Linked DNA regions of Homo sapiens. The protein of the gene in region 4 purifies or fractionates together with the protein of the main gene of each other region. This does not show direct contact. Each region holds a gene or a part of one and is shown on either strand. Other genes may lie near its edges. The genes, in order: CLPTM1, SLC47A1, VRK1, TMPRSS12, DPY19L4, POMT1 and ALG9.

What was found.
Region 1: the proteins of TMPRSS12 (region 4) and CLPTM1 purify together in Homo sapiens (affinity purification with mass spectrometry; one large-scale study listed by BioGRID and IntAct). This does not show direct contact.
Region 2: the proteins of TMPRSS12 (region 4) and SLC47A1 purify together in Homo sapiens (affinity purification with mass spectrometry; 2 studies listed by BioGRID and IntAct, with this or other methods). This does not show direct contact.
Region 3: the proteins of TMPRSS12 (region 4) and VRK1 purify together in Homo sapiens (affinity purification with mass spectrometry; one large-scale study listed by BioGRID and IntAct). This does not show direct contact.
Region 5: the proteins of TMPRSS12 (region 4) and DPY19L4 purify together in Homo sapiens (affinity purification with mass spectrometry; 2 studies listed by BioGRID and IntAct, with this or other methods). This does not show direct contact.
Region 6: the proteins of TMPRSS12 (region 4) and POMT1 purify together in Homo sapiens (affinity purification with mass spectrometry; 2 studies listed by BioGRID and IntAct, with this or other methods). This does not show direct contact.
Region 7: the proteins of TMPRSS12 (region 4) and ALG9 purify together in Homo sapiens (affinity purification with mass spectrometry; 2 studies listed by BioGRID and IntAct, with this or other methods). This does not show direct contact.

The regions. Positions count from the first base shown.
Region 1 is NC_000019.10:44,972,380-44,975,879, reverse strand, and holds part of CLPTM1 (putative lipid scramblase CLPTM1), read right to left. Parts: intron 2,794-3,500; coding exon 2,670-2,793; intron 1,442-2,669; coding exon 1,283-1,441; intron 1-1,282. UniProt on the Homo sapiens protein: Involved in GABAergic but not glutamatergic transmission. Binds and traps GABAA receptors in the endoplasmic reticulum (ER).
Region 2 is NC_000017.11:19,554,354-19,557,853, reverse strand, and holds part of SLC47A1 (multidrug and toxin extrusion protein 1), read right to left. Parts: intron 2,643-3,500; coding exon 2,545-2,642; intron 2,262-2,544; coding exon 2,164-2,261; intron 2,059-2,163; coding exon 1,945-2,058; intron 1,860-1,944; coding exon 1,792-1,859; intron 295-1,791; exon of another isoform or gene 143-294; intron 1-142.
Region 3 is NC_000014.9:96,803,882-96,807,381, reverse strand, and holds part of VRK1 (serine/threonine-protein kinase VRK1), read right to left. Parts: intron 1,070-3,500; exon of another isoform or gene 1-1,069. UniProt on the Homo sapiens protein: Serine/threonine kinase involved in the regulation of key cellular processes including the cell cycle, nuclear condensation, transcription regulation, and DNA damage response.
Region 4 is NC_000012.12:50,845,926-50,849,425, reverse strand, and holds part of TMPRSS12 (transmembrane protease serine 12 precursor), read right to left. Parts: intron 1-3,500. UniProt on the Homo sapiens protein: Required for male fertility. Plays a critical role in sperm capacitation and acrosome reactions during fertilization, and also plays a role in the regulation of proteins involved in spermatogenesis.
Region 5 is NC_000008.11:94,726,400-94,729,899, reverse strand, and holds part of DPY19L4 (probable C-mannosyltransferase DPY19L4), read right to left. Parts: coding exon 3,459-3,500; intron 1-3,458. UniProt on the Homo sapiens protein: Probable C-mannosyltransferase that mediates C-mannosylation of tryptophan residues on target proteins.
Region 6 is NC_000009.12:131,505,918-131,509,417, forward strand, and holds part of POMT1 (protein O-mannosyl-transferase 1), read left to right. Parts: intron 1-196; coding exon 197-303; intron 304-485; coding exon 486-536; intron 537-1,433; coding exon of another isoform or gene 1,434-1,450; coding exon 1,451-1,597; intron 1,598-2,993; coding exon 2,994-3,105; intron 3,106-3,500. UniProt on the Homo sapiens protein: Transfers mannosyl residues to the hydroxyl group of serine or threonine residues. Coexpression of both POMT1 and POMT2 is necessary for enzyme activity, expression of either POMT1 or POMT2 alone is insufficient.
Region 7 is NC_000011.10:111,840,582-111,844,081, forward strand, and holds part of ALG9 (alpha-1,2-mannosyltransferase ALG9), read right to left. Parts: intron 229-3,500; coding exon 74-228; intron 1-73. UniProt on the Homo sapiens protein: Mannosyltransferase that operates in the biosynthetic pathway of dolichol-linked oligosaccharides, the glycan precursors employed in protein asparagine (N)-glycosylation.

The DNA.
Region 1 (3,500 bases), on a different chromosome or scaffold from region 4:
AAAAGAAAAGAATGATGGCTGGACGCGGTGTCTCACGCCTGTAATCCCAGCACTTTGGGAGACCAAGGTAGGTGGATCACTTGAGGTCAGGAGTTCAAGGCCAACCTGGCCAACATAGTGAAACCTTGTCTCTACTAAAAAATAAAAAAATTAGCTGGGTGTGATCATGTGTGCCTTAGTCCCAGCTACTCAGGAGGCTGGCACATGAGAATCGCTTGAACCTGGGAGGTGAAGTTGCAGTGAGCCAAGGTTGCGCCACTGCCCTCCAGACTGGGTGACAGAGCGAGACGCTGTCTCAAAAAAAAACAAAAAACAAAAAAAAAAACCAGAATGACTGTGTCCACATTCTGCTTCTAGCTACCCAGACAGAAATAGAACAGAAATGTGCCCTCCACCCCAAAGCTGAGAAGGCCTGCTGGGGAGAAAGGAATGAGGGCAGCTGTCTTGGACTCAGCCGAAGAAGGCCCCAAAGAGAGATGTCCCTTTTACTTGTTCAATACTTGCTGATTCTGCACCCAGCCCCACGTTGGGCAGTGCTGGGGACATGGAAGTGATCTAGGCAGCCCCAGCCTTATTATCACAAGGCTCACAGTCCCATACAGGAGTCCCAATGAGGCCCCAGAATGGGCTGGGATGGGGAAGCCCAGCAGGTGTGAGAACCCAGAGAGGGTGCTTAACCAAGCCTGAGTGCTCTGTGAGTCAGGGAGGGCTTCCTGGAGGAGGTTGGATTTGAGCCTAGGGCTGCGAGAGTCCACAGCCGTAGAGCCTGAGTCTGAATCTCTCATGCGATGTGGCCTTGGGTAAATCACTTTCCTTCTCTCTCAGTTTCCTCACATGTTAAATGAGAATAATAACAGTTCCTGCTTCACAGGGTTGCCGGGAAATTTCCATGAGTCAGCCTAGCTTAGTACCCTGCACTTAGCTCAATCAACATTAACTAATATTATTTTGAAACGGGGCTGCCTGATAAACTGGTGATAGGCAAACATCCCCAAGGACAATTACTAATCTTTCACCAGTTTAAAGTGGAGGACTGCACAACCTTAGAGGTAGCTGGGAGGGTCCCAGGCCAATTCCACCCCTATCTACCTTTTTCAGGTAGGGGAAAGTGAAGCCCAGAGATCTCAGGGACTGGCTTGTGGTCACAGACCATGTGAGCCCAGGGAAGGGCCAAGCCTGGAGCCCAAACTCCACATGCTCTCAGCAAGGAGCGGACTGGAGGAAAAGGTCCTTCAGTGCCAGTCAAGCAGCCATGGGGCCAGAAACCGAGAGCTGCCCCCACCTGTGGGATATCGAGCTCAGCAAAGTGCTCGTAGCAGCCGTCTGAGTTCTCGCCGCTAGTCCAGTCGCCATACACAAGATCGTGCTGTTCCCAGAAGAGTGCCGACGTGGCGTTGAAGTCTGTAAAGTGCTCGTGCTCTGAGATGTACACATGCAGGTTCTGTTGGGACAGGAAGGGAACAGAGCTCAGGCCTGCTCTTCAGAGCCTCTGCAGGCTGGCTAAAGAGCTATGGCAGCGGTCAGCACACTCAGGGGAACAGTAATTATGGAGGACAGGGGAGAGGAGAGAGGAAGAGCAGCAGAGAGGACATATTTTCTCTTTTCTCATACCACCATGTTTGTCCTGGTCTGAGCCTGTGAAGTCAACGAACAAAGAACACTTGGAGACTGGCCAGCCTGCCAATTAGAATTTAGGGGTAGGAAGGGGCAGGAGCTCCCTGAATGATCTCCTGCCCTCATGGCTGCTGGGCCTTCCTGGTCAGAGCTCTGCAGGCTTATGGACGAAGCAGTCCAGAGCTACAAAAGCACTGTGAGCCACCGGGCACGGTGGCTCATGCCTGTGATCCCAGCACGTTGGGAGGCCAAGGCGGGTAGACCACTTGAGGTCAGGAGTTCGAGACCAGCGTACCAAAAAGGTAAAACCCCATCTCTACTAAAAATACAAAAAATTAGCTGGACGTGGTGGCACATGCCTGTAATCCCAGCTAGTCGTGAGGCTGAGGCAGGAGGATCACTGGAGCCCGGGAGGCAGAGGTTGCAGTGAGCTAAGATTATGCCACTGCACTCTAGCCTGGGCGACAGAGTGAGACTCCATCTCAAAAAAAAAAAAAAAAAAAACCCACTGTGACCCAACAAGAACTTCCTCCTTTCTCAAGCCCCAATGGCCATGTTTGCTCAGAAAAGCCTAGACTGACAGATCTAAATGCTTTTGCTCTGGAGGCTCCTGAAGCCCTGCCCTGCCTGTGCCCAAGCCCACTGTGGAAGTGCAGGTCTCCTCTCCTTCCGGGCCCACCTCCTGTCAGCCTCTGCTGGCTCCCTGCCCTCCCCACCTCTCACACTCTCTCCCTTGCACATCTCCCTCTGCAACCCTGAAAGGCTGAACATACTTTTGAAATATAACATCCAAAGACCCTGATTTAACCTATTTTAACCAAATGAATTTGCTTTTTCTTTTGGGTGACACAGGTTTTATGTGCTGGGGATGGACCCAGGTGACAGAGGTCTCACGTGTTGGGGATGGGCCCAGAGTTCCTCAACCCTGGACCTGTTTTCCTAGACCTGCCAGTGAGCAAGGACCTGGTCTGTCCCGACTGCTGACATCACTCCTCCACATTCCACCCCTCCACACCCCATCACCTCCCAAGTCTGCCCTACCACCCGGCAGTTACCATTAAAGTGTCTTTGGGGAACAGGTTGCGGCTGGCGACGCGTGGAGCTCCTCCGGGGCCCGCCTGGTCCTGAGGGGCCGGCCCTCGGCGGAACCAACTGCTGATGGCCCAGATGATGAAGATCCTGAGGAGAGAAGCAGCAAGGTGGTGAGTCCCCAAGCCTTGGCTCTCCGCCATAGACCCGCCTGACTTCCTTCTGACTTAGCACATGCTGGCGCCTGACCTGGGGCTAGTGACCAAGTCAGGGAGGCCCTGAGAAGGTAGTCACAGGGCTGGCAAGGAGATAAGATGTCCCTAAAGACCACATCTGGGGAGGGAGCCCAGATGCCACCGTTTGCCAGTGTGTGGGGGTAGCTGGCACTGCCCTGGTCTGCATGCAGACCCTTGACTCTAAATCCTGCAGGAGCTCCTGGTGACCACAGGGCTGCAGGGGCTGACTCTTGACTCAGACTGGGAAACCTGCCATCCAGCCCCCTGGGATCCCCCGAGAGGAGACTAAGAATCTGGAACCCCTTCAGTGTGCAGATGGATGAATTAAAAGAAAAAAGAAATAAAGAAAAAATAATAAACATAAAATTTTTAAAAGAAAGAATCTGGAATCCTAGCGCTTCAAAAGCACAGAACCGGGGATGGTTAATGGCTACAAAAAATAGAATGAACGAGGACGGGCGCGGCGGCTCATGCCTGTAATCCCAGCACTTTGGGAGGCCAAGGCGGGCGGATCACGAGGTCAGGAGATTGAGACCATCCTGGCTAACATGGTGAAACCCTGTCTCTACTAAAAAATACAAAAAAATTAGCTGGGCATGGTGGCGGGCGCCTGTAGTCCCA
Region 2 (3,500 bases), on a different chromosome or scaffold from region 4:
CTAGATGCTACTAGAACAAAAGTTACAGTTTCCACTGTTAAGGAGAAACAATGGAGAAACCAGCGTGAGCTCCAGTGCTTTCTTCGATTTGGTGCACTGAAGAATCCCATTTTGGGAGCAGAAAAACCCTGTGTGTTGTGTTAGCTGTTCCTTATCACCAACGAGAGTAAGTATTGTTACCCTCACTACATCTACGGGTAACTGAGGCACAAACGTTGTGAGGCAGTTAATGTTCCCAGGGTCACCCATGGGCCAGCTGGGAGGGCAGCATCGCCCCGTGAACATACCCTGGGCCCACTTTTATGAATCTTAAAGAAATAATCAGACAAGTATATGAAGATATTTTTTCCTAGGATGTTCCTTGAAGAGTTGTTAATATTGAAACATTGGAAATAAACTATTCAACCATAGGAAATTGATTTTAAAAGTATATCACATATAGTGGAATCCTATATACCATTAAGCATTTTGACTTAGATATAGTTAATGAATTTACTCAAATATAAAATGTAAATAAAATATTAAAAGTGAAGTAAAAAATCCATGTTAAAAAACTCTGCCAAGGATAGAAAAACAAAAACAAAAAACATAGGTCTGCAAGAGAATAATTCTTAAACAAAACAGAAAATGTGTACTCTATGTTTTAAAACATAACCAATATCAGAGGGAAAAAATCTAAGTGTTAATACTGCAAAAAATGCCAAGCATATCTGCTGGCTTGAGTTTCTCCCCACATTATAAACTCCCTTTGTTTTTAATTTTACATTTCTAAAATGGTACTTGCTTCCTTCAGAATCTCCAGTTGATGTTTTCAGGAAAATAAAGCCAAAGAAAAGCCTCCTAATGACTAGTGTTCTCTATGATCAAAATTTCCTCCCTTTTAAGGCTGAATAATACTCCACTGTATGCATAGAACCCATTTCATTTACCCGCAGACACATAGGTTGCTTCCACCTTTTGTCTACTGTCAATAATGCTCCTGTGAACACAGTTAACAAGTCAGGCGCGGTGGCTCACGCCTGTAATCCCAACACTTTGAGAGGCCAAGGCGGGTAGATCGCCTGAGGTCAGGAGTTCAAGACCAGCTGACCAACATGGTGAAACCCTGTCTCTACTGAAAATACAAAATTAGCTGGGCGTGGTGGCAGGCACCTGTAATCTCAGCTACTTGGGAGGCTGAGGCAGAAGAAATGCTTGAACCCGGGAGGCGGAGGTTGCAGTGAGCCGAGATCACACCATTGCACTCCAGCCAGGGCAACAAGAGTGGGACTCCATCTCAAAAAAAAAAAAAAAATCCCTTTAAGACCCTGCTTTCAGTTGTTTTGGGGATCTACCTTGCAGTAGCCACACTGTGTTTTCAGAGGCTTCAGAACCAGGCAGGAGCGGGCATAGTGACACAGGCAGCTTGATGTTTATGGTCATACACCCAGCCTCATCCCTCTGCTATGCCACCCACCTGGCCCCTCAAGGCATTTGTGTTGTGACAACTGAAAAAGATTCTAAAAGTATGGAAACAAAATCAAATCTTTCAAGGGAAGATTCAGCTGGGAGCTGCGTTAGGAGATGGAGAACCAGCAGATCATGTGCAGTTTCTCTCCAGCCCCCCTTCAGTTCCTAGGGAAGATCCAGCTGTAGCAGAGGTACCCTCCCAGGCTCAAGGATGGGATTTGACTTTTGTCCATCATTTCACAAATGATTCATGTACGAATGCCTGTGCTCATCCATAGACTCTTTCAGATACCAAGCAAGGAAAACGCCTGGCACCTCCCCATGATCGGCTCCCCTGCTTACCATGTACACAATGATGGCCAGTTCATACACGATGGACTGAGCGCCCAGCTCCACCATGCCGAGGATGCCTGGTGAAGAAAGACAGCTGTCGCCTTGCACCCAGACAGGGCCCCCAGGTTCCCACCAGTCCCCGTCATCCATCCTCATACAGACCACTGAGGAAGCTCCCGACCTCATAGGCCCACCACTCCATGCACAGCATGAGCATGCTGGGGATGGCCAGGCGGAGGAAGGAGGCCCAGTCCTGCAGGCACTCGAGGGACCAGCCTGTGGGGGGGACACACACATTTCCAGGAGATCTGGCCATCGGGCTGGAACTCAACCTGAGACAAAACCCACATCCCAGTTGGAAGACAAAAGGGCAGTCATTACCTCCCCATGTAGCTTGATGCAGTTTTTTCCCGAGGATGTAGAGAAAGAGGAGTAGAGCCAGGGTGTACTGGGAAATCAAGTTTGCCAGTGCAGAGCCTCTGGAAAGAACAGTCCCAATGAGAGGGAGGTACCTTCCTGCGCCTCTCCCTGCCCAACTCAGTGAGGAGGGGAGACTCATCCCTTCCCGTGCTGTCCTCAGCAGGCCAAGGTCTTCTTCCCAGAGCAGCCTCACCCTCCATCCCTGACAGTGCTTTCCACAGTGTGCAAGAAAGAGACCACGCATGGACACAAGAACCAGCTGAAGAGCCCACTCTTCTCCCTCCTGGAAAAACCACATGCAAGTCATCCCTTCTCCCTGTCCCAAGAGTATGTTGGACTCACATCACCCCAAGATGCAGTTGATGGAGAAACAGATAGTTGGCGAGGGCATTGACAAGGTTGGCTGCAACTCCAGTTACGATCTGGGGCAGTACAATTCCCTGGAAAAAGGACACCGCATGCCATCCTTGAGATCCACAGAATAGGACTGCCTTTCTGCTACCCAAGCACACACAGGCTCCAGCTGGCCTGCTCAGCGGGTATCACAGGCATAGCTGGGGGGCTTAACTGGGGAGGTCATGTCCTTGTTGCTCCTGCCTTTCCACTCTCCCACCCCTTTCTCTTCCTTCTCTCTTTGAGGTATAAAGTGCGGAGTTCTGGCCACAGAGAGACACAGGCAAGATATGTTCAGCAGCAGGGAAGGAAGAAGATAAATGGCTTATTTCCAACAGTGCAAGGACTGGCAGGGGCTAAATGGGTCAACAAGGCACCTTTGACACTGGACGATAGGAGAAAATGAGAATACTTTCTTCACCAAAATAGAAATTCAGAAAATTGACCTAAGATCTTGAAGAAACTAGAGTTTCTTTCTAGAATACGGAAGGGATTCCAACATATCTAACTTTCAAAAGTACAGGACTGGTGAAACATCCAGACTGTTTGGTGTCTCAAAGTAAGACAGGGGTGAAAGTAAAATTACATCAGACCAAGGAAGTAAAACTCTGTCCTGCCCCGCATCCGGATAGAATAGCAGACGCAGATAAAGTCAGTGCAAACGTAAAAGGAAACCTCCTTTCTCCCAAGGTCACGCTGTCCCCATAAAGTGTCATTACTCCCCTAGTGGAATGACGAGTGCTTTCTGACTCACTGAGAAACTTTGTTGTCTAAAATCAGACTGTTCAGAAACATTGCTGTTTGAAATCATTTCAGTAAAAAGAAAACACCCCACTCTCGCGTGGAGGCTCAAAATCATGTTAACACAAAAAAGTAGCCTCAATTTCCAACCCAGGCACAGAGCT
Region 3 (3,500 bases), on a different chromosome or scaffold from region 4:
TTCAAATCAAAAAGACTGAGAATACTTGATGACTATTTTCACATATTTGAAAGGATGTTACGTGGAAGAGGGATTCAGCCTGTTCCACATTTCTCCAAAAGGCAGAAGTGAGTAGAAGAAATTAAGTAGACTTCCACTCAATGTAAGAAAGAATTTTCTAATGGTCAAAACTTTAATAAAAATAGGATAGGCTGTCTCTAGAGCAGTGGTTCTCAACCAGAGATGATTTTGTCTCTGTAGCCAGAGATGCCACTAAACATCCCACAGTGCAGAGAACAAACAGTGACCCATGTAAAATGTCAACAGTCCCATGGTTGAGAAATTCTGCCCTAGAGATAGTGAGTTCTCTGTCGTTGGAGGCATTTCATCATAGACCAGACCATGTGATGATGTCACAAGAATGGTGGGCCAGGAATGGTGGCTTGTCATTCCAGCTACTCAGGAGGAGGATCATTTGCTCCCAGGAAATCAAGGTGGCAGTGAGCTATGATCGCACCACTGCACTCCAGCCTGGTTGACAGAGCGAGAGGAAGGGAAGGAGGGAAGGAAGGGAGGGAGGGAGGGAGGGGAATGATGGGAAGTGAGAGTGAATTGAAAAAAGTTTTGTTTCAGATACCTCTCCAGAGAAAAATACCTTCAGGTATATCAAAGTGAAAATGATGATGATGACAAACATTTATTGAACACTTACTGTGGGCCAGACATTACACCAAATGACTCATGTATACAGTTTGCAGTTAATTCAACAACTCTAAGATAGGTATTATTTTACCTTGATTTGATGCTAAATTGAATTGCTCTAATGTCACACAGCAGTCAATATTTGAACTAGATCTACCTGACCCAATTTTATATGTCACTGTCCAAAGCATAAACATCAAATGACTTTCAAAGCTTTCACACTCTGGAAAAGAAATGAACAAGCACATATTCCACAAGTATCAGGACAATGTCTGAACAGGTTTGTACTCACTGTAAACCTAGCTGGCTAGGAGAAAGAGGAAAGGATTATTTGAAGTAGTCCTGTGATGAAGAAGAGAACAATTATCCTGATTGTCCCCAATTGCCTACTTCTGTAAGAGCCAAGAAGCTCTTATATACCCATGGAGGATGGGATTAATGATGACATCCTTTTATCCATAGGCGTGAAAGCTCAGAATGGACAGACGTTTGAACATCCCCGACTGGGAATCCTGCCCTTAACAAATACACTAGATGCAGATACATGGTTTCTTGGCTGCCTATACTCACGCCCATCTGTCAGGATGGCAGTATGCCTGCTCACATGTTGGTCAAACTGTCACTAGGGCATAGGTGCCAAGCAATGATAGTTTTAAATGGGCAGCTTGCATAGCACTATAAGAGCTTGCTCTTCTGCAGAAAAAAAAAAAAAAAAAGAAAAATTCTCTGTGATAATACTGAAGGGCTGCAAATCACAAGTGAAATATTCTTGGTCAATCTCAACATTTCAGTGGAAAAAAAGATCTAGACAAGTAGAAAAGAATCAGAATAAGGAAGTTAAATCAAACAGAACAGGTACTTTAAAAACATGTGAGATGTTGCATGAAAGCTTTTAACACTGCCCTTCTTTCATTAACATGTGTCAATGGTAACCTCTTACACTGTAAAATCCTTGCCTCAACAAGTCATCACTGATTTTTTTCTTAATGGAATGATACATTTTTCCATGTTCTAAATAGGAACAGAAATGCATTGATTTCTAGTAGTTCGACACTATACAGGTTCTATTTGTTGACTGATTATTTTTAAAATGACTTAAGTCTAATCTACAGCCATGATAATCTTTTAAATGCACAAAAGAAAGCAGAAACCAAAGAGATCCCCACAGATAAACGGCAGGGGAGGGGAAGAGTATAATTTGCATGGAGAAAGAAACTAACAACTGAAGTAGGCACTAACAAAATGGAAAGTGAGTACTTTTGCTCATGAATTTAATAGGACTCGAGGGCAAAAACATAGATCTGTTATCTTTCACATCCCCCTGACTACAAGCAAAATGTTCCTATACTACATCTAGGTTTCTAGTGTATCCTTTAATATCTCACATGAAATATATAATGTCTTTACTGTCCGGAAATTCTTCCCTAAGACCAAAACCTTAAAGCTGCAATTTGAGCCATTTGTTCTTATGCAGTCCTCAGGATTTTGAAGAACAGCTGGTCATCATCATTCTCTGTATAGTTCTTCACATACAAGTATCAGGACATACTGATTAAATAACCCCTGAGTCTCCTCTTTGCCATGATAAATAAATCTGATCCCATTAACTTTTCCTCATTGGACCGATTTATGAACTCTTCATGTTTTTATCATTTCAGTTGCTCAACGCTTGGACTCTTTTCAGGCCTGGTAAGAAATGTCACCCACATCAACAATGAGCCAACGGAAACTACTCTTTTTCCCAAATGTACAACTTAATAACAGTAGCATAAATACGAAACAGTTTGGAAGTCCTGCTGACTTCTCCATATCCATCACTGAGGACAGCAGCAAAAGTTTGAAATCTACCACTGCCTTCTAGAAAATACTAGGAATTTATAACATTCTGAAGTAACACCACTTTTTTAGCTTTCTGGCAGATATTTGTAAAACAAAGTTGTAAGTCAAGGGTCATGATTATATCCTGTTCTTCCTACCAACGTATCACTGCCACAAATGGTCCTAAAACAACTTCTCTTTAATACCATTTCTATCATACCATTTTCCTGATTAAGAATATACAGCACCTTCCTAATAGCCAATGAAACTGATTACAAATGCTTCAATCTAGCCAGAAGTTTATATACTCTTTCTTTTTCACGAACCAATGATCCTTCCTTTACTTCTCTACTTCCCTTCACTTGCATGACTCCCAAAAATAGCCAGTTCTTACTTATTTTCTCTAGAACAGATCTTTGCCCATGTTATTCTCTAAAATGTTTTCCCACTTTTTCCAGACTCCAGCCATGTTATACCTTCAATAAACCTGTATTTATTAATAGTTAATTGCTCATTCATTTCTTCCTGTCTTTGTTTTGATACCTAATTTACAGTATATGGCCAACTGATTTTTGATTTTTAAAACTTATTGAATGGAGAAAGGGTAGACTTTTCAACAAATGGTTTTGGAACAACTGGACATCCATGGACAAAAGGAAAAGAAAAATGTACCAAGATCTAAAGCTCACATCCTGTGCAAAAATGAAACCAAAAAGGATCACGGATCTAAATGTAAGACATATAAGGGTAAAACAGAAGAAAAAATGAGAACAACCTCCTGACCTAGAGTTAGGCAGAGAGTTCTAAGATAGGCACTAAAAACACGATCCATATATTGAGAAGTTGGACTTTAACAAAATTTGAAACTTTTTTGCTGCTAAAGACACTGTTAAGAGAATGAAAAGACAAGCCAGAGACTGAGAGAATATATTTACAAATCATATATTTGGCAAAGGATTTTGTATACACAACATATAAAGAATGCTCTAAAATCAGTAAGA
Region 4 (3,500 bases):
TTTAAAAGGTGAATTTTACTGCATGTAAATTATGCCTTAACTTTAAAAAGAAAATAAGTGCATAAGTGAGAAAACTGAGAAAAGAAAAATAGATCCAACAGGTCATTTCTACTAATGTGAGTTAGGACTGGCTGTACGAAAAAGCCTCTAGGTTTTAGTAGATATCAGTGGGCTGCTGGACTACAACATATTCTTTCTCAGTTCCAGTTACATAGAGATAATTAAAACAGTATCCTCTTTCCCTTTTCTAAAAATATCCATTGGTGGCTGTATGCAGTGTCTCATGCCTGTAATCCCAGCCCTTTGGAAGGCCGAGGTAGGAAAATAGCTTGAGCTTAGGAGTTAGAGACCAGCCTGGGCAATATAGCAAAACCCCATCTCTACAAAAAACACAAAAATTAGACATGGTAGCACATGCCTGTAGTCCCAGCTACTGGGGAGGCTGAAGTGGGAGGACCAATTTATCCTGGGAGATTGATGCTGCAGTGAGCCAAGACTGTGCTACTGCACTCCAGCCTAGGTGATAGAGCAAGACCCTGTCTCAAACAAACAAAAAGAAATATCCATTGGTGCTTATATACTCATATCCATATCCTATGCAAGGATGAGTGCCCTGCCCACTCTGTTGTCAAGGTGCTCTCATTTAATACATGACCCCAGATCCCCTGACCACAGCTCTCTGGGAAAGGGGTGGGCCTCTAATAAAGGTTTATTCATAAATTGAGCAATGGTGGTATCACCTGATTGAAAAGCTGGGTTGGGATAATCAGATAATTCACCATGAAAATTGATGAGAAGGCCAGTTGGCAATAGGAGCTGAAACTGAAAGATTATGAGGTAGAATGATAACACATCATATGTAAGTTCATGTTATAAGGAAGCCATTCAGTGAAAGGGAGAAAAAGGGCAGACAAAAAACAAAACAACAACGACAAAAACAATCCCTTCAGAGACACCTAGCTATAGACAGCTCCGCCCCAAATATCATTCCTCATGTGATGAATCTGGCTGCATATCAGAATCCAGTGCTTTGAAAAGGAGTAAAGACCATGACTGGTTCTTAGAGACTAAACCGATTTCTGGGTGGGAAGTGGGGAAGGCAAATCCAACACAGTGGCCAGCAGGAAGTCGATGAGGGAGCTTGAAGATATCTACCAATGTGAAATTAAATACTTTATAATAACAAGCATCCAACTTGATAAATCTCATTTATTGACTTGGCAAGGCTTTTTTTTTTTTTCCTGACAACCTTTTATTTGATAAAGGGGCCTTCAAAATAGAAATCAACTTTCCAACAGAGTTTCCAAACCTGCAAAAAATACTTAAAACATAAAGTTATCACCATAAACTTGATGAAAAAGGACAAGCCTGTCTTCCAGTAACTAGTGTAAAAAACTAGACACTAATAACTAAACTTGGCCAAGTAGTCCCGTACCTCATATTACTGGTGAAAGAACTCAGACCTAAGCATCTCCCTCACGCTGATCTAGTTGAAGAATATATATGTGTATATATATATATATATTTTTTCTCTTTTTTTGAGATGAAGTCTCGCTCTTTCGCCCAGGCTGGAGTTCAGTGGCATGATCTAGCTCACTGCAACCTCCGCCTCCCAGGTTCAAGTGATTGTCCTGCCGAGTAGCTGGGATCACAGGCACCCACCACCACGCCTGGCTAATATTTTGTATTTCTAGTAGAGACAGGGTTTCACCATGTTGGCCAGGCTGGTCTCAAACTTCTGACCTCAGGTGATCCTCCTGCCTCAGCCTCCCAAAGTGCTGGGATTACAGGTGTGAGCCACCACACCCAGCAGGTTCTGTCATCTTATAATACTGTCCTCCAATCCATGAACACAGGATGTATTTTCATTTATTCATTTATGTCTTCTTGTAGCACTCCAGCCTAGGCAACAAGAGCGAAACTCCCTCTCATAAAAAATAAAAATAAATAAAAATAAAAAAAACAAAAGGATGACAGAACCACCCAAAGCAATCTTTTCCCCAATATGGGAAAAAGTGGACTTCCCCATATTGCTCTGTAGACTGTAAACTTTTTAAAGAGTTTTTAGGGGCCGGGCACAGTGGCTCACGCCTGTAATCCCAGCACTTTGGGAGGCCGAGACGGGCGGATCACGAGGTCAGGAGATGGAGACCATCCTGGCTAACACGGTGAAACCCCGTCTCTACTAAAAATACAAAAATTAGCCAGGCATGGTGGGGGGCGCCTGTAGTCCCAGCTACGCGGGAGGCTGAGGCAGGAGAATGGCCTGAACCCGGGAGGCGGAGCTTGCAGTGAGCCGAGATCGCGCCACTGCACTCCAGCCTGGGCAACAGAGCGAGACTCCGTCTCAAAAAAAAAAAAAAAAAAAGTTTTTAGACTGAATGCAATCCCTATCAAAATCCCAATGACATTTTTTTTTTTGCAGAAACAGAAAAACCCATCCTAAAATTCATATGGAATATTAAGAGACTCCAAATAGCTAAAATAATCTTGAAAAATAAGAACAAAGTTGGAGGGCTCACATTTCCTGATTTCAAAACTTACTGCAGGCCGGATGCAGTTGCTCACACCTGCAGTTACCACTTTGGGAGGCCAAACTGGGAAGATCACTTGAGCCCAGGAGTTTCAGACCAGCCTGGGCAACATAGTGAAACTCTGTCTCTACAAAAAAATACAAAAATTAGTCAGACATGGTGGTGCACACCTGTAGTCCCAGCTATTCAGGAGGCTGAGGTGGGAGGATCACCTGAGCCTGGGAGGTGGAGGTTGCAGTGAGCTGAGATCATGCCACTGCATGCCAACCTGGGTGACAAAGCAAGGCTCTGTCTAAAAAACAAAACAAAAAACAAAAACACCACCAAGAAAAAATACTTACTATAGATCCATACTAATCCAAAGAGTGTGTGATACTAGCATAAGGACAGATATATACATCAGTGGAGAAGAATTGAGAGCCCAGAAATACACCCTCTCTATATGATCAATTGATTTTCAATGAAGATGCCAATACCATCTAATGGGGAAAGGACAAACTTTTCAATAGATGGTGCTGGGGAAACTTGATAGCTGCACGTAAAACAATGAAATTGTACCCTTACCTGATACCTTATGCAAAAATGGACTCAAAATGAATCAAAGACCTAAATCTAAGAGCTAAAGCTATAAAACTCTTAGAAGAAAACATAGGGGAAAAGCTTCGTGATACTGGATTTGATATAATGATTTCTTACATATTACACCAGAAACACAGGCAACAAAAGAAAAAAAATAGATAAATTTGACTTCATCAAAATTAAAAGCTTTTGTGTATCAAAGGACAATATCGAGAGTGAAAAGATGACCCACAGAATGGGAGAAAATATTTGCAAATAATGTGTCTGACAACAGATTAATATCCAGAATACATAAAGAACTCCTACAACTCAACAACAAAAAAGCAAAGAGCCCAGTTCAAAAATGGACAAAGGACTTGAATAGACATTCCTCCAAAGAAGATATAC
Region 5 (3,500 bases), on a different chromosome or scaffold from region 4:
AGACTATTTAATTTTCTTTCTTACGTTGTATTTTTCAAATTTTTTAACTTTTTTGTTTGTTTGTTTTTTGAGACAGAGTCTTGCTGCATCGTCCAGGCTGGAGTGCAGTGGCGTGATCCTGGCTCACTGCAAACACCACTTCTCAGGCTTAAGCAATCCTCCTACCTCAGCCTCCCAAGTAGCTGGGACTACAGGCATGAACCACCACATTCTCAGCTAATTTTTTTTTTTTAATTTTTTTGTGGAGATGAGGTCTCACTGTATTGCCTAGGCTTAAATTTTTTTTTTTTTTTTTTTTTTTTGAGATGGAATCTCCTCTGTTGCCCAGGCTGGAGTGCAGTGGCACATTCTCGGCTCACTGCAATCTCCACCTCCTGAATTCAAGCAATTCTTGTGTCTCAGCCTCCCAAGTAGCTGGGACTACAGGGGCACACCACCACACTTGGCTGATTTTTTTTTTTCTGATTTTTTGTAGAGATGAGGTCTCACTATATTGCCTAAGTTTAAATTTGTGTGTGTGTGTGTTTTAAGACGGAGTCTCACTCTGTCACCCAGGCTGGAGTGCAGTGGCACAATCTCGGCTCATTGTGACCTCCGCTTCCCAGGTTCAAGCGATTCTCCTGTCTCAGCCTCCCAAGTAGCTGGGACTACAGTTGCATGCCACCATGCCCAGCTAATTTTTTGTATTTTTTTAGTAGAGACGGGATTTCACCATGTTAGCCAGGATGGTCTCGATCTCCTGACCTCATGATCCACCTGCCTCGTCCTCCCAAAGTGCTGGGATTACAGGCTTAAGCCACCGTGCCTGGCCTCCCATTTCTTGATTTTAACTTTCATTGGTTGAAAAAGACAAACAGCTTTTTCTTTTTTTTTTTTCTTTAAATAAAGACAGGGTCTCACTATGTTGTCCAGGACGGTCCTGAACTCCTAACCTCAAGCAATCCTCTGCCTCAGCTTCCCAAAGTGCTGGGATTACTGGCGCGAGCCACCATGCCTGGTTAATAAACTGTTCTCACTTCAACATTACAAGTCCCAGAATTTTGGGATTCTCTATTTTCTTCTTTATTCCCACTTACAAATAGTCCAATTCTATTCTAAACCCAGATCTCTTTCCTGTAGTCAAATGCAGATGTTAATAACAAAGGCACTCTAGTAACATTCTGTTTTGCAATCTCATTACCTAAAATGATAGAAAAAAATAGTATTGTCAACTGTTCACAGGAAACAGTATTATCAAATGTTTTGTCATGATATAATATAGATCTTCATTTTTCCAGCTCCCAAATATAGTTTTCTTGCGGCCAGCCCCTCACCTAGATTTGTAGATTACCCACAGCTTTTATCTTGAGCAAATTTATATATAGGCCTCAACTTTTAGTGCAGAGCAAGCAATCTGAGAAAGCTGTTTAGCCCTTAAGGATGACACATTCTCCAAACCCATCTTTAGATATGGTTATAGAGGAAAATGGAAGAGAAAAGATCTCTAGAGTGTAAAATCAAGGACCATGGAAAACAATGAACTGGAAAACAATTCCCCAGGAACACAACTGGGGCATAAACACAACAGATTCCTTATCCCAGAGTAAGGGGATATCCTGTCCCTGTCCAACAGTGTATACTGAGAGTGGGGGGATGTGCAGAAAAGAGTTAACACAGCAGGCCTGAGACCGCTTTCCTGAGAAAGGCCTGCTTGCAGGCGGATCACCTGAGGTCAGGAGTTGACCAGCCTGGCCAACATGGTGAAACCCCGTTTCTACTAAAAATACAAAAATTAACCAAGTGTGGTGGCACATGCCTATAATCCCAGCTACTCGGGAGGCTGAGGCACAAGAATTGCTTGAACCCAGAAGATGGAGGTTGCAGTAAGCAGAGACCGCACCATGGCACTCCTGCCTGGGTGACAGGGTGAGACTCTGTCTCAAGAAAAAAAAAGAAAAAGAAAAAGGAAAAAAAGAAAGCCCTGCTTGCAAGGTAGGCTCTCTTGGCTGGCATCTAGGAACTTCAATTTCAGGAGAGTTCCCACCATTCTCTAACTGATAACAGTGCCTATCCTCTTTGTACAAACAATGTAGTTTATGCTTTCTTTCTGGGAGTCAAGAATTTTGGGACATGGTAGGCAGAGGATACCTACATGACCAGCCCCCAGTAAAAACCCTGAGCACTGAGTCACTAATGAGCTTCCCTGGTAGATAAAACTTTACAAATGTCACAATTTGATGCTGAAGGAATCAGGCCCATCCTGTGTGACTCTGTTGGAGTGGAAATTTGGAAGCCTATGCCTGGTTTCTTGCAGATTTCACCAAAATAGGCCTTTTCCCTTTGCTGATTTTGTTTTATATTATTTGCTATAATAAATCATAGCTGTAGGCTGGGCACGGTGGCTTATGCCTATAATCTCAGCACTTTGAGAGGTTGTGGCAGGTGGAACACTTGAGGTCAGGAGTTCAAGACCAGACTGGCCAACATGGTGAAACCCCGTCTCTACCAAAAATACAAAAATTAGCCAGGCGTGGTGGCATGTGCCTGTAGTTCCAGCTACTGAGGAGGCTGAGGCAGGACAATCGCTTGAACCCAGAAGGTGGAGGTTGCAGTGAGCTGAGATCGTGCCACTGCACTCCAGCCTGGGTGACAGAGCGAGACTCTGTCTCAAAAATCAATCAATCAATCAATCAATCAATCATAGCTGTAAATACAACTTCATTCTGAAACTTGTGAGTCCTTCCAGCTAATAACCAAACATGGGGGTGTTCTGGGGAACCCCCGACATAAAACAGATAACCTGTCTTTTTAGTTCATAGATCTCTGGATTAGAATGAGTCATAGCTGGCCCTGATGTAGATAAGCCTTTGGGTTCAAGATTAAGGCTGTGACTAGATAAGAGAGAGTTTTCGGGTGTGGGAAAAAGTAAGCGTATTTTGTCTGAGGGAGAGAAATAAATCACAAGGACAGGGTGTGGTAAACTATATTATTATTCACAACTATTTTCTCCTTCCCTTTAAAAATCTTATATATCCCTGCCCACTACCATGTGACCTGGAACACTTCCCTGTAATCAAAGTATACTTCACATCCCATCGTCTGAATTGATTATATGACTTGCTTTGGCCAATAAAAGGTGCGTACAAGTGATAGTGTGCCAGGTCAGCAGAAACTTTAAGAGACATTGCATGATTCTGCCTCCTCTTTTCCTACGTCACAAGAAAAATCTTTCCCAAATACGGACTATTCCTTCGCAACACATAAAACTACGACAGCCAAACTGCAGCCACAACATGTAATATTAATTAGAAATAAATGTTTGTCATAAGCCAGTGAGATTTGGGGGTTGTCCAAAACCTAGTGAAAGCTGAGCATATACTTAATCTCAAAATATGTATATTTAAAATATTGACATAAAATATACTTTCTAGTGTAAACTATTTTTGTAGTAGCACAAATTCCAAGTCTATCTAACTTACGTTTTGGAGCTCTTTCAGGAATTGGAATGTCACTGATTTTCT
Region 6 (3,500 bases), on a different chromosome or scaffold from region 4:
CCCATGTCTCTGTGGGTGGGTGATGCTGTATGCATCTTAATATTTGGGGATGGGAAACAATTGGGGCAAAAGATCCAGCCTTTGCTGATCACTCACTCAAAGTCATTTGGAAACACATACACATTTATCCTCACAGTTTTTGTTTACAGTTAAGATTCTAATTGAATATAATATGGGTTGTTGTTTTTTTTTCTAGTTTTGACGAAGTATATTATGGGCAGTACATCTCTTTTTACATGAAACAAATCTTCTTCTTGGATGACAGTGGGCCGCCATTTGGCCACATGGTGCTGGCCTTGGGAGGTAGGAGTCATCAGGAGAGTAGCCCCTACCCTTCAGGACCTCAAATACATTTAAAACTTATCAGTGCATTTCTTACAGGCAGAAACCAGGTCTTATTATTGATGCATCTTGTTTATTGCTTGCCACAGTACTCTAGAAATATTTGCTGAATGGGATAGTTACTGATTAATCTTCTGTTTCAGGTTATTTAGGAGGATTCGATGGCAATTTTTTGTGGAACAGAATTGGAGCAGGTAAAAGATAATTTTCATTTCCCTTTTAATGTGCGCAGGTTAGAATGAAGAGATTGTGACTTTTGTAAGGATTAACAACTGTGGCTTTTTTTTTCCTTTCATACCTAGTCCCACAGAAACTGTGCCTTATTAATCTGAGTCCAGAAAATAATAAATTGGTTGGATACAAATGAAAGACTTCTGGAAAGTCTGGTTAAAATCTTACTGTTCAGTTGCAGTCATTATTTCAGCCCTTGTCGTTGGTACACGTATCACAGAGCGTCTGATTGTGATGATCGGTTGTACATGTGAATTTTGTCCATTGCCACAATGTTTTTGAAAATAGGGAGGGTAGGCCGGGCGCGCTGGCTCACGCCTGTAATCCTGGCACTTTGGGAGGCTGAGACGGGTGGATCATGAGGTCAGGAGATCGAGACCATTATGGCTAACATGGTGAAACCCCGTCTCTACTAAAAATACAAAAATTAGCCGGGCGTGGTGGCGGGCGCCTGTAGTCCCAGCAACTCGGGAGGCTGAGGCAGGAGAAGGGCGTGAACCCGGGAGGCGGAGCTTGCAGTGAGATGAGATGGCGCCACTGCACTCCGGCCTGGGGGACAGAGCAAGACTCCGTCTCAGAGAAAAAAAAAAAAAGAAAAAAGAAAACAGGGAGGGTAAATATGTATAAGTAAGGCGGTAAATTTTAGAATCCTTAGTCCTGTCTATGCTTCATGAGATCGGGTTCCATGACTATGCAAAGCTAATTTCAAAGCCTTCACCCATAGTTTATGCACTCTGCTGCTGATGGGGTCCCCAGTTTTGTAAACGTGCATTTTAGAGTCTGTGAACATGACGGCGCTATGTGAAAGCATAGCTGCAGTACACAGAGATGGTGTGTGCACAGTGTAGTCAGCTCTGCAGTGTGGTTGCTTTTCCAGAATACAGTAGCAACGTGCCTGTGTGGTCCCTGCGCCTGCTGCCAGCACTCGCGGGGGCCTTGTCGGTCCCCATGGCCTACCAGATAGTGTTGGAGCTCCACTTTTCTCATTGTGCCGCCATGGGAGCTGCTCTGTTGATGCTTATCGGTAAGACCTGCGCCCCTGCCTGCTCTTGCTGTCATGCAGGGAAGAACTGACCCTTTGGCCCGGAAGATCACATGGGCTTGGTGGGCGAGCTGCACCAGAAAGTGCATCTGGTTCATCCAAATTTGACGCTGCAAGTCACCCGCTCCCAGGCTGACCCCGTGGTTATGGGATTGCTGAATTGTGGGATCAGACTCTTATCAGCAGTCGGGGTATGGCAGTAGAAAACTGCCCAGATGCTGCTGCAAAGTCCATGCACACGTGGGCACCTCCATCTCCAACCAATCTTGTGACCAAATGATAACTTCCCCTTGTTCCACCACCTCCCAGGCCTTGGCCAATTGAGATGGACTCGTGAGTCAGTGGATCCTCTTCAGAGAGGGTCTTCCAGCTCACGTTTATGAACAGATGAAATTAAAGCAGATGAAAAGTTAGATTAGGCTGGGCGCAGTGGCTCACACCTATAATCCCAGCACTTTGGAAGGCTGAGGCGGGCAGATCACGAGGTCAGGAGTTTGAGACCAGCCTGGCCAACATGGTGAAACCCTGTCTAAAAATAACGAAAAATACAAAAAATTAGCTGGGTGTGGTGGCAGGTGCCTGTAATCCCAGCTACTTGGGAGGCTGAGGCAGGAGAATTGCTTGAACCTGGGAGGTGGAGGTGGCAGTGAGCCAAGACTGCGCCACTGCACTCCAGCCTGGGCAACAGAGCAAGACTCCATCTCAAAAAAAATAAATAAGCCGGGCACGGTGGCTCACACCTGTAATCCCAGCACTTTGGGAGGCTGAGGCGGGTGGATCACAAGGTCAAGAGATCGAGACCATCCGGGCCAACATGGTGAAACCCCATCTCTACTAAAAATACAAAAATTAGCTGGGCATGGTGGCACCCACCTTTTGTCCCAGCTACTCAGGAGGCTGAGGCAGGAGAATCGCTTGAACCCGGGAGGCGGAGGTTGCAGTGAGCCGAGATTGTACCACTGCACTCCAGCCTGGTGACAGAACAAGACTCTGTCTCAAAAAAATAAATAAATAAAATTAGCCAGGTGTGGTGGCATGCGCCTATAGTCCCAGCTACTCAGGAGCCTGAGGCAGGAGGATCCCTTGAGCCCTGGTGGTCAAAGCTGCAGTGAGCCATGATGGTGCCACTGCACTCCAGCCTGGGCGACAGAGCAAGACCCTGACTCAAAGAAAAGAAAGAGACAGTAGAAAATCAAAAGAGATGTGTATTGGGTGATGACTGTATGAGGCCTTGTGTCTATAGAATGTTTTAACATTCACAACAGCCCCACACAGTTGTATCGCTTCTGAAGTAATGCCTTTTTTCATGAGTGTTTTTCATCCTCATACGTTTTCCCTTGCTACCTTAAAATTGACATGTGTTTCCTCTTTGAAACAGAGAATGCTCTCATCACTCAGTCAAGGCTAATGCTTTTGGAATCAGTGTTAATATTTTTCAATCTATTGGCCGTGTTGTCCTACCTGAAGTTCTTCAACTGCCAAAAGCACAGGTATGGAAAATGGAGTGTCTTCCTAGTTAACGAGAACAGAGATTCTGGGTGGTTTGTTGATCTGAGATGGTCCAGTACCTTTTTTTGTTTCGTTTTGTGAGACAGTACCTTTTCATTTTGAGGAGTTGCTTGCTAAATATCTTTTTTTTTGAGACGGAGTCCCTGTCACCCAGGCTGGAGTGTAATGGCGCAATCTCGGCTCACTGCAACCTCCGCTTCCCAGGTTCAAGCAATTCTCCAGCCTCAGTCTCCCGAGTAGCTGAGATTACAGGCACACAGCACCATGTCTGGCTAATTTTAGTATTTTTAGTGGAGACGGGGTTTCACCATATTGGCCAGGCTGGTCTCAAACTCCTGACCTCAGGTGATCTACCCGTCTTGGCCTCCCAAAGTGT
Region 7 (3,500 bases), on a different chromosome or scaffold from region 4:
GCACTTAAGTTTGTGAGCAATTATTTAATAAGTAAAAAAGAATGAGGCAGATACACTTCTCCCTGAAACTCACCTGAAGTGCAGAGAGAGCCACAGCGCCACAGAGACATATAAGTGGATACACAGGGAAAAGAAATCTCTCCTCTTTGTGAGGCTGGATGAAGAAAATTATAAACCAAATATACATTGGAGCCAAGGTAAGCCAATACGGGTGGCCTAAATTCTGAACTGCAAGACACAGAAAAATACCCATCTTTCATTATATTAGAACAAAACAACATATTTAGTTTTAGTGTTATCTTGATCTCAAATTTAGGAGTATGCCCTAGGACACTCCATAGAATGTTTCTACTCTTGTATTCACACTTTCTCCAATGCCATAAAGGCATCAAAAGGAGAGAAGAATATACTCCTTAGCTCTCCCAAGAGATCTAAACTCTAACAACAAGCACAATACTAGATTTGGTTAGGACACATATAAATGTCAAGTTAATGGCTAATAGAACTTAATAAATTCTACGTTAGATGAAGGAAAAATAAGCCGTCTCCTTTAATGAGTCCTGCCACTAAGACGAAAAGTTCCTGAGTTTAACCAAAAGCATAACATAAATTCATTTCTGGGGTTTTAATTCCAATGTTCTGTTTAATTGGTGTCTCTTATCTATACACCAATCAGTCTGTTCAAATAGCCATGGATCAAAGGAAAACAAAATTGTTGGATTCTCAAATTCATTACTGGTTTTCATCAAGCCACAAATGACGGAGTTTGTTTCAAGGCAAACATAAAAATGCTCTTAAAGGAAGTTCAGTGATTGTTTTCTCTCCATTTTGCAATACTCATCCACTCCGGATCCCCAAATTGGAACAAAAATGTACTTAAAGCATGTGAAAGAATTAAAGGAATGTAATGAACACTAAAACCCAAGAACCTGCTGGAAAGTTCCCGTGGTTAGGTACATGAGAAATGAGAGATAAGCCTGCAACCCACAGTGAAGGCATCTCCTACTGCGTTTACAGGAGTGATAATGAGCAACGCAAATGCGGGCAAATGGTAGATAGACAGCGCCCCCTGGTGTCCACCATGTTAACAGTAAGCCAGTTTACAAGATCAGGATTATCGTCAAGATCCACTTTAGCTATGCCTAATTTAGCATTCCTAGGCTATCACTTTCACTGTAGAAATTCTTTAAGGATAAAAATTCTTGAACTACAATAACAAGATTTTGTTTCAACTTTTGCTCTAAGACATTATGGGATTTTAGATAATAATTTAGAATATATACCTTTCTAGGTAGTATATTTTAAGGGGGAGGTTTTTTGTTTTTTGTTTTCTGAGACGGAGTCTCTCTCTGTCACCCAAGCTGAAGTGCAGTGGCACAATCTCGGCTCACTGCAACCTCTACCTCCCAGGTTCGAATGATTCTCCTGCCTCAGCCTCCTTAGTAGCTGGGATTACAGGCATGCATCAACACACCAGGCTAACTGTTGTATTTTTAGTGGAGATGGGGTTTCACAGTGTTGGTCATGCTGGTCTTGAACTTCTGACCTCAGGTGATCCACCCGCCTCGGCCTCTCAAAGTGCTGGGATTACAGGCGTGAGCCACTGTGCCTGGCCTAAGGTGGGGTTTTTTAATTAGAAGAAAATAAATCCACTTATTGTCCACAAGTAAACAGTCCTTTTCTCTTCTGTACCTTAAAGGCTAACGAGTAATCTTTTTTTAATAAGGCAAAAAATTTTGAAATGTCCTCCATAAAATATACAAAATCACAACCACAGCTAGATATGATGAAATCAAGAGTAATTTCTTTCCTGCTTCTTAATAATTTTCTATGGTTTGGGGGACTTTTTTTTTCTCTTGAGACAGGGTCTCGCTCTGTCACCCAGGCTGGAGCATAGTGGCACAACCATGGCTCACTGTAGCCTTGACCTCCTAGGCTTAAGCAATCCTCCCACCTCAGCCTCCCAAGTAGCTGGGACTACAGGTGTGCATCGCCATGCCCGGTTAATTTTTTAATTTTTTTCGTAGTGACAGGGTCTTGCTATCTCACCCAGGCTGGTCTTGAACTCCTGGGTTCAAGCAATCCTCCCACCTCGTGCTCCCAAAATACTGGGATTATAGGCATGAGCCACTGTGCCTGGTCTTTTTTCTCTTAAAAAAGTATTGGTTCTATTCTAAAATCACATAAAAATATAAAGAAAAAAACAGAAAATGTTTTCTTACTAGGTAGATATGTGCATACATTATGCATTTTAAACCAATATTTTATACTTAAAATTTTATCATACTGTAGAGAACAGCTTAATATCCTGTTTTTTTACTGACGTTACAAGCATTTCCAAATTTTCCACAAGCATAAATAATTATTATTGTTGTTTTTAAAAACAGAGACACAGGTCTCACTATGTTGCCCAGAGTGGTCTCGAACTCCTGGGCTCAAGCAATCCTCCCACCGTAGCCTCCCGGGCAGCTGGAACTATATGCACGTGCCACTGCTCCCAGCTATCATAAATTATTTTTATAGTCAGAAAAATAGCTATTTTCAAAAAAAGAAAAAGTGATCCTTAAGAAATAGAAGGGATAGAGGAATAAGTTAACACCTCAAGGGAGCAAACAGCTGAGTCTAAAATGTGGGACATTATGCAAGATGATGGCCTGGTTTCTTTAAAGAAATCTTCGAAAGAAAAAAAGTAAGATGGGGGTCTTCTTAAAAAGCTTAAGAAATATAACACTAAATTCAGTACGTGACCCTTGTTGAGATTCTGCTTTAAACTAACTATAAAAGGCTATTTTTCAGACAATCTAGGAAATCAATGGGTATTAGATGATATTAAGAAATTACTGATAATTTTATTAGGATAATGGCATTATGGCTACGTTGAAACAAAAGTCCTAACACCAAAGAAAAGTGACTCTGAAGGCTGCTCTAATATTCTTATAATACAACGAACTCATTATAAACCATTAATAGTAGAAAAGCAGAATGGAGGTGGGATGGGGGAACTGATCATATGGCATCCAAATCAGACTGCAAAGTCTGAAATTAAATCTTTTTCCAAACCTCATATGAATTTCTGTTCAAATCTGTCTTCCATAAAAGAAATGAGAGGCACTAGATATCCAGAGCCACGACAACTTGAGAAAACACCAGCTGTGCACTACAGAATCAGAGCAAGCAAAGCAAACGACAAACCAAACTTTCTCCAATAAGGCAGACACAGAAACAAAAAGGAACAAAGAAAAGCATCATGCTTCTGAGGAAGTCCAAAGCTTCCCTTACTTCACTATCAAATTTGGGGAAATCCCTGTATGGTTCAGATTTTATACTTTCGTTTGAAGTACTATCTCGTGGATTACCTTAAGCAACCTATCAGGTTAATATACACTTCTTTAAAAGATAGAAAACTCAAATAGGCTTGTTCTCTTCTGAGATTTTTTTTGAGATGGAGTTTTGCTCTTGTCGCTCAGCTGGAGTGCAGCGGCGCAGGGTCTTGGCTCACT